Linked DNA regions of Homo sapiens: all the other regions are linked to region 3. The links come from fine-mapping of genetic effects on plasma protein levels. A gene starts in region 3. Each other region holds a variant in brackets. All regions are shown on one strand. Distances are from middle to middle.

The links. PIP is the chance, under the fine-mapping model, that this variant and not a neighbour inherited with it causes the effect. Protein levels are from antibody-based Olink assays in UK Biobank. Linkage for the fine-mapping came from a reference panel and not from the study's own genotypes, which makes the PIPs less certain.
Region 1: its variant is fine-mapped to the plasma level of the ASPSCR1 protein (UK Biobank, PIP above 0.99). The variant lies in the coding sequence of ASPSCR1. If it changes the protein, the assay may bind it differently, which can mimic a change of level.
Region 2: its variant is fine-mapped to the plasma level of the ASPSCR1 protein (UK Biobank, PIP above 0.99).

The regions. Positions count from the first base shown.
Region 1 is chr17:81,994,976-81,997,720 of GRCh38, reverse strand. ASPSCR1 (ASPSCR1 tether for SLC2A4, UBX domain containing) reads right to left here. Exons shown (of 16, transcript NM_024083.4): 6 at 1,656-1,729; 7 at 875-1,301. Among named protein-coding and RNA genes, the nearest start is that of ASPSCR1, 19 kb to the right of the region's middle. The variant A/T (reference allele first, on the strand shown) is at 1,053.
Region 2 is chr17:82,091,169-82,093,913 of GRCh38, reverse strand. It overlaps FASN (fatty acid synthase), which reads left to right. Exons shown (of 43, transcript NM_004104.5): 4 at 143-316; 5 at 495-695; 6 at 895-1,017; 7 at 1,102-1,217; 8 at 1,325-1,459; 9 at 2,230-2,692. Among named protein-coding and RNA genes, the nearest start is that of SNORD134, 2.4 kb to the right of the region's middle. The variant G/A (reference allele first, on the strand shown) is at 1,370.
Region 3 is chr17:81,975,870-81,978,603 of GRCh38, reverse strand. ASPSCR1 (ASPSCR1 tether for SLC2A4, UBX domain containing) reads right to left here and starts at 975. Exons shown (of 16, transcript NM_024083.4): 1 at 856-975. The coding sequence starts at 957. It overlaps LOC124904087 (a long non-coding RNA gene), which reads right to left. Exons shown (of 2, transcript XR_007065951.1): 2 at 2,269-2,493. LOC105371939 (a long non-coding RNA gene) reads left to right here and starts at 1,119. Exons shown (of 2, transcript XR_933953.4): 1 at 1,119-1,236; 2 at 1,647-2,636. RefSeq lists a silencer at 480-1,339 and enhancers at 818-1,589, 1,590-2,363.

The DNA of each region.
Region 1 (2,745 bases), 19 kb before region 3:
TCAAGAGATTGAGACCATCCTGGACAACATGGTAAAACCCTGTCTCTACTAAAAATACAAAAAAATTAGCTGGGCTTGGTGGTGCGCGCTTGTAGTCCCAGCTACTCGGGAGGCTGAGGCAGGAGTAATCACTTGAACTTGGGTGGCAGAGGCTGCAGTGAGCCGAGATCGCGCCACTGTACGCCCACCTAGGGACACAGTGAGACTCTGTCTCAAAAAAAAAAAAAAAAAAACCCAGAAAAAAAAAAATCATTTGCCTGAGAAGCTAAGAACAAGCCCAGTGACCCTGCTCAGGTAGGAGGTGGGGCTTGATTCCAGACCAGATTGAAGACTGGCTGATGCGTTCACCAGCTCCCCCTTCCCTGGCCATAACCCGGAAGTTACCACCCCTTTTCTAGAGATTTCTGAATGCCCCACCCCTTAACGTGCATGTAGTTGAGTGGATGTAAATGTGACCACGGCCATGCCCTGAGCTGCTGCCCTCCATGCACCACCCCAGGGCGGCCCTGCTCTGTGCCACACATCACGGAGCCAACACGGAGCTGACACAGTTGCCGCCTTGTCATGGAGCCAACACGGCCTCATCCCGGAGCCCACACGGCCTCATCCCGGAGCGGACACGGCCTCATCCCGGAGCAGACACAGCCACCGTCTCAGTAAAGCTACTTTCTCTACCACCTGCTTACCCCTAAATTCCTTCCTGGGCGAAGTCAGAAGGCTCCTGTCCAGAGCCCCGCGTTTGGGTTCCTCTGCGCGTTTGGGTTCCTCTGCCCGCATCACGGCCACGCCACCAGGCTGACCAGCTAAAGCCACGCAGGGCTACACATCAGGAGAAAGGACACCCCCAAGTCCCAAGGCCTAGAGCCCCTTTTACCCGCTCCCGCTCCTGCTCCTGCTGGGGATCCCGCTCCCGCTCCTGCTCCTGCTCCTGCTGGGGATCCTGGCCCGACTTGGACTTCTTTGGCTTGGAGGGGCCTCCAGGGCTGGAGAGGGACTTCGGCAACTTAGCTGAAGATGATGTCAGAGGCCTCGTGGGCCCAGGAGGGCCCCCC[A/T]GTCTCTGTCCCCCACCCGAGAAAGGAACAAAGGGGGCAGCTGCGGGTGCCCTTGTGCTCTGCTTCTCCTGAGTGTGCTCGCAGCAGGGCCCTGAGGTGTCCGCGTCCTCCGGACGGCTCAAGTCGCCGCGGCTGAGCTCCCCAGATTCCAAGGGAAGTGGAGCGCTGGCGGCTGCCTGGCCAGCCGACGCTGACGAGCCCAGGCTTCCTGGGGTCTTGCCCACGGGGTCGTAGCACTTCATGACAAACCTGAGTGGGGCCAGAGGACAAGGGAAGCACCTTGTGGTGCCTACCCCCGGCTCACCCTCTCCCGGCCCAGGCTCACCCTCTCCCGCCCCCGGCTCACCCTCTCCCGCCCCCGGTTCACCCTCTCCTGCCCCATGCGCCCTCCCAAGATCCACCGCCCCTCTGGGGGACACAGAGATGAGGTCGGGGCAGCCCAGCCCCCACGCCCACAGGCAGGCAGAGGCCACCAGGCGCTCTCCATGATGAGGGCCTGGGTACACCTACTCCCCACTTGCCACGTGTCCTTTCTCCTTTCCTTTGAGACCACTTTTTTTTTTAGCTAAATAGACTCCTCGGCCCCAGCAGCACTGCCCTTACCTGATGGTGGCGCTGCCCCCGGTCAGGCCCAGCGACTGCAGCGTCGTGCCCCGCAGGGCAGCTTCACCCGTCACCTGCAGGAGGAGCAGCCAGGACAGGTGCGCCTTGCACCGGGACCCCAGAGCCCAGGGAAGCCCTCCGGGCACCGGCACCACCAGGACCACAGGCCACGTGCCCTCTCTGGCCTCCATCCTACCCACCCCCCACATCTGGCCCCTGCCGGTCCACACCCTCCACAAGGCCCAGCTTGAGTCTGGTCTGCAGCCGGGGCAGGACCTGCTGCCCATGCCTGACCGTGTCTCCCCCAGCCTGGTCTCCGCAGCTGGGACCCAAGCTCACTGAGGCCTGGGCTGGCAGAGCTGGGCTGCAAGGAGGAAGCCCTGGTGCCAGGACCCACTGCCCGGAGCGAGAGAGGCAGGAACGTGCTGTCACCCACGGGGGTGGCCATTCCTGGTGCTCAGCTCGGGGTGGGCAGGGATCGGGCCTGGCTGGCCACGTCCCATACGCTAACTCTGACCTGTGAGGAAGGGGTGGAGAAGCTGCCTCTAGCGAGGGCACAGTCAATGGCCCAGCACAAAAGCCAAAGGGTGTAAGGGTCCCTGAGGGCCACAGCCTCAGGACAGTGCTGGGCCTGGGTCCTGAGCCCCGTGGCTCATCCCCTCAAGGGAGGACGTAGACCTGAACCTCCCCGTCACAGCCCCAGCCAGGGAGCTTCCAAATGGGGATAAATGCGGGGAATGTCCTGGCCCCCCAGGGCCCCTCCGGGCCAGTGCCCCCCCACCCCAGCAAAGGGCACTCAGCCAGCGTGGAAACAAAAGGCCCCTGTGAGGCCAGGGACGAGCGCTAGGAGGGTCCCGCCACGGCGGGCTTTGCTTGCGCCACGCCACACTCGGTTTTGAAAATGATCAAAACACCGAGCAAAGCAAATATTTATTAAATGAAACCACTTTTGTGACTCTTGGGCTTTGAGAGAAGCTGAAAAAACAAACAGGGCGCCGAGGGAGGTTTCGGGGCAGCCCGGGCTCCGAGGGCCGGCCACTCCCTCTTTTTCCATGAAACACGTCGTGCTTTCAAGAGCCCGAGTCTCCCG
Region 2 (2,745 bases), 120 kb before region 3:
TCCAGGGTCCCACTGGGATGGACCCCCCCTCACCCCAAGCCAGTGAGGCCAAGATGGGACCTTCGCCCCAGAGCCGGGTGGGTGGGTGGGCTGGCTGCGCTGTGGGGCCCGGCCGTGGCACCTTGACCACTGTTTGTGGCAGGCATCAACCCAGATTCACTCCGAGGAACACACACTGGCGTCTGGGTGGGCGTGAGCGGCTCTGAGACCTCGGAGGCCCTGAGCCGAGACCCCGAGACACTCGTGGGCTACAGCATGGTGGGCTGCCAGCGAGCGATGATGGCCAACCGGCTCTCCTTCTTCTTCGACTTCAGAGGTGGGTCCTGCCCAGCCTCCTGCGGAGGTGGGTGGCCTTCAGGTCCCCACATGCTGAGCAGAAACCACGTGGCGTGGGCTCACTCCGTGCAGTGTGTGTCCAGCCTGGTGGCAGGAGGTGTGCTCAGGGGTCTCGTGTGCTCACAGCCCCACCTGAGCCGCAGCACCCTTCCTTGCAGGGCCCAGCATCGCACTGGACACAGCCTGCTCCTCCAGCCTGATGGCCCTGCAGAACGCCTACCAGGCCATCCACAGCGGGCAGTGCCCTGCCGCCATCGTGGGGGGCATCAATGTCCTGCTGAAGCCCAACACCTCCGTGCAGTTCTTGAGGCTGGGGATGCTCAGCCCCGAGGGCACCTGCAAGGCCTTCGACACAGCGGGTGAGTGTGCGGCTGCGCGGCCAGGGCAGGCGGGACAGTGGCACAGGACGGCCCCCCGCACAGTCCCCACGCTGAGCAGGATCCTGCCAGCTCCGGGGATCCCCCACCCAAGCACCCACCCCACACCCCAGAGCTCCTCCTGGTGGGGTGGGGGCCGGCGTGGGGCTGAGCCCCGGGCCTGAGGTGCTGCTCTACCCAGGGAATGGGTACTGCCGCTCGGAGGGTGTGGTGGCCGTCCTGCTGACCAAGAAGTCCCTGGCCCGGCGGGTGTACGCCACCATCCTGAACGCCGGCACCAATACAGATGGCTTCAAGGAGCAAGGTGGGCTCTGCCGGGGTTCCGGGGTGCTGGGGGGCAGGTGGGAGCCGGGGCTGGGGCTGCAGCACTGAGCCGAGCCCTCCGCAGGCGTGACCTTCCCCTCAGGGGATATCCAGGAGCAGCTCATCCGCTCGTTGTACCAGTCGGCCGGAGTGGCCCCTGAGTCATTTGAATACATCGAAGCCCACGGCACAGGCACCAAGGTGATGCCCCCCCCCCCCGCCCCACTCACCACCCCATGAGCCTAACCTACGCCCATGCCTGGAGAGGTGACCTGGCCAGAGCCCCTCACCCCCCATGTTTCCCACAGGTGGGCGACCCCCAGGAGCTGAATGGCATCACCCGAGCCCTGTGC[G/A]CCACCCGCCAGGAGCCGCTGCTCATCGGCTCCACCAAGTCCAACATGGGGCACCCGGAGCCAGCCTCGGGGCTGGCAGCCCTGGCCAAGGTAGGTGGGGCTGGGCTTGGGGGTCCCTCAGGCTCCTGCTCCCTGGGACTGGGTTGCGCCATGGCTGGGCACTGCTGCTTTCTCTTTGCCAAGTGGAGGCGGGGGCTTCCCCACCAGGAGCCTCTGTCCCCCGGGCTATGCTGCAGGTCTGAGCAGAGGCACTGAGGCTGACAGCAGGGAGAGCTCGTAGCCAGGCTCGCTGGGCCTTCCCTGGAGGCCTGATGCCCTGCAGAGCGTCTGCCGGACACGGAGCCGAGCTGGAGGAGCCGCTTGGGTGGGAAGAGCGAGGCAGGAGCAGGCCTGGGGGGGTCCACGGCACCATCAGGGTCTCCCGTGTCGCCCACCCGTCCCTACAGCTTCCTGACCCACTAGCAGAGGCCTGGGGACCTTTAGAGAGACCAGGCACAGGAGCCCCAACACCCATGATCACTCACGCCCTCTGCCCCCCAACTTCTGCAGCCTCTGAGATGCAACATCTGGGCCAAGGGGGCCTTAGTGTTCAGGCCACAGCCAGGCTTTGGTGGGTCCACATCAGGCTGGGAGGCAGCAAGGCCGGAAGGGGAGGTCTTGGACCAAGCTGAGGGCAGGGCCATGGCGGCTCAGTCCTCGGACCCCTGTGCCATGGCAGAATTAGGTTGGGGACAGGAAGTGCATCGGAGAGGGCCCTGGAACCCTGGCCCCACATGAGAGTCTCGGGGAGGTGCCTGCCCCCAGCTCAGGCAGTGGTAGAGGGAGTGGGGCGGCTGCCCATCCACCACGTACCCCCGCAGGTGCTGCTGTCCCTGGAGCACGGGCTCTGGGCCCCCAACCTGCACTTCCATAGCCCCAACCCTGAGATCCCAGCGCTGTTGGATGGGCGGCTGCAGGTGGTGGACCAGCCCCTGCCCGTCCGTGGCGGCAACGTGGGCATCAACTCCTTTGGCTTCGGGGGCTCCAACGTGCACATCATCCTGAGGCCCAACACGCAGCCGCCCCCCGCACCCGCCCCACATGCCACCCTGCCCCGTCTGCTGCGGGCCAGCGGACGCACCCCTGAGGCCGTGCAGAAGCTGCTGGAGCAGGGCCTCCGGCACAGCCAGGACCTGGCTTTCCTGAGCATGCTGAACGACATCGCGGCTGTCCCCGCCACCGCCATGCCCTTCCGTGGCTACGCTGTGCTGGGTGGTGAGCGCGGTGGCCCAGAGGTGCAGCAGGTGCCCGCTGGCGAGCGCCCGCTCTGGTTCATCTGCTCTGGTGAGCCCACACTCTGCCCCCAAGGTGGTCCCTTCCCTGGGGAAAGGCAGGCG
Region 3 (2,734 bases):
CCGAGTCGTGTGCACCTTCGGATCCTCACGGTCCCCCACGCAGCAGAGGCTCAATAAATACTTTTTTTTTTTTTTTTTGATATGGAGTCTCGCTCTGTCTCCCAGGCTGGAGTGCAGTAGCGCGATCTCGGCTCACTGCAAGCTCTGCCTCCCAGGTTCACGCCATTCTCCTGCCTCAGCCTCCCGAGTAGCTGGGACTACAGGCGCCCGCCACCACGCCCGGCTAAATTTTTTTGTATTTTTTTAGTACAGACGGGGTTTCACCGTTTTAGCCAGGATGGTCTTGATCTCTTGACCTCGTGATCCACCCGCCTCGGCATCCCACAGTGCTGGGATTTACAGGCGTGAGCCACCGCGCCCAGCCAATACTTTTACATTTAATTGATTCGCGGTCACAAGGTGCCCAAGTAAAAGTGCAGTGAGTGACTCGGCAAAAATCGCTTCCAGGCCCCACGGCCGGGACATCTGCCACCGCGCAACCCGGGCTCCCGCTCCGGGGGACGCCCCGGAATGGGAACGCGGGTCTAGGGCTCCACTCCTCCCTCTTCCCGGCGCCCTCGCGAGCTGGGCTCGGCCGGGCGCCGAGTACTCGATGCGGGTGACACGCGGCGCCGTTCTACCTCACCCCTGGGAAGGCTCGCCACCGCCCCGCCCCCACTCGGGACCCCCGGGACCCCCGGGACCCCAGCGGAAGCGCAGGTGACGGCGAGCAGGGGGCGGGGCCGCCGCTCAGGAGGCCGCTCATTGGCCGCCGAGGCCCCGCCCCCGAACACCGGGACGCCGACCGCAATGGGCGGGGCCTCGGCGCAGCGCCCCCCGCCCGCCTACCCGTCCGCCCCGGGCGGGCGGCCGCACCTGAAGCAGCACGGTGCTCGGCGTCACCTTCACCGTGTGGCGCCGGCCGTTCGGGGCCAGCACCGACACCGCGGAGCCTCCGCCGCCTGCCGGGGCCGCCATTTTCCGCTCACGTGACCCGCCGCCGGGCCGGCGTCAAACAACTTTATCGGCAACAGCCAGGACGCGCAGCCACGCGGCCAGGGGGCGGGGCCGCAGCGCACTTCCGGGTCCTGCCAGGCCCCGCCCTTTCCCCACCCACGGCGCCCCGGCCCCGCCCTTGGGCCGCCAAAGCCCGCGCCAGACCCGGAAAGCGCGGTCGTCCTCTGCCTCCGGGAAGCGCGGCTTGGATGGGCTCGCCGGGGCCAGGCTGGGCCGGGGCTGGGCGCGCGGTCACCCCCGGTGAGCGGCACTGAGCCCCGGGGTCCCAGCGGTCCGCGCTCGCCCACCCTCGCTTCGTCCCTGACACGTCCCCAGCTCGGTGCCCTGCTCTCCCCCGACCCTCCCGGCTTCCTCCACTCCAGCAGCTGAGCCTCTTCCCTGCCCACCTGTCCCTGTGGTCAGCGTCCACCTCCTGACCTTATGGTTTGGGGCAGTCCCCCCGCCCCTGTACGGATCCTCCCTGGGTGTTGGGACTCGTGGCCCTCAGTCTAGACCTGATTTCTTTCATCCTAAAATGGGAGTGCAGAATCTGGCAGCCCTAGGGCTGCCGCGACGGTCCCTAAACCTGAGGGTAGGAAAGGCGGGAGACCGGTTTCAGAACCGTGGGGTGAGCGAACTTGAGTCTCACCGGAGCTCCTGCCGACCCACAGGCACTCAAGGACTTCCCGCACCAACCCATGCTGAGGAGGGGCTTGGTGGCAGCCTCAGGAAACACTCCCATCGCCAGCCACCGCAGCAGGGAAAGCACCTGGCCTCACCAGCTCCAGGCTTCCAGAAGGAGCTGCCCTCCTGACTCGCAGCCGTCGAATGTGCTTAGCTCCCAGCACCTGGGCCACTCATGGACAGCACTCGCACGTGTTCCGCCCCGCCCCCCACCTCCATGGCTCAGCCGGGCCTTGGCACTCCTCTCTCCATGTGCCTGCCTGTCTCTGCGGACTCCTGGCTAGGGCTCAGCTGCCCAGTAGCCTGTGGAAGGGGGAACTGGTGCAGTTATCAGTCAATCCTCCCACAGGGCTGGGATTACACACGTGAGCCACCGCACCCGGCAGTCATTGCTGAGTCTAAGGACATCTCTGCATGGGTGCTGTTGTGCCTTCCTGTCGATGACATATCCATGTCACCCACACACACCTGTATGCTGACAAACACGGACATCTATGTACATTGGAGAAACCTGGGGAAAGCCCCAGGCTAGCCATAGCCCTCCCATCCAGCCAGCCAGTCCCATGCTCTGTGCAACCTCAGAACCTTACTGAGCCACACATCACCTGGTGGGTTTTAATTCTTTAGTGGCGTTTTTGAAGAGTCTGTTCCTATTTTCCTTAGACTGTCCCACAGTCTGGATCCTTGGTTAAACGTTTGGGGCAATGATGAAGGGAGGTGACAAGTCAGCAGGAGGTGCAGGACATCAGCGTGGCCATGAGTGAGGACGTGAAGTTGAACCACTTGGTCAGCTTTGGGTCTGCTGAATTCCTCCATGGTCAAGGTCCGTGGCTCCTTGTGGAGTAATTAAGGCATGCGTGAGGTCATTCTCTGAGACCACAAGCATCAAGTTTTCCCAATAACCATTTGCCCAACAGTTTTAGCATCAGTTAATGAGTAGATTCAGTGTTAAACCGTAAAGCTGCAAAATCATGGCTTCCCAAGTTTATTGTTTCTTCTACATTTATAGTCACTTTCGGTCAAGCTTCCCCTTCTTTAAAAAGTTATTAAATATTTGGGAGGCTGAGGCAGGAGA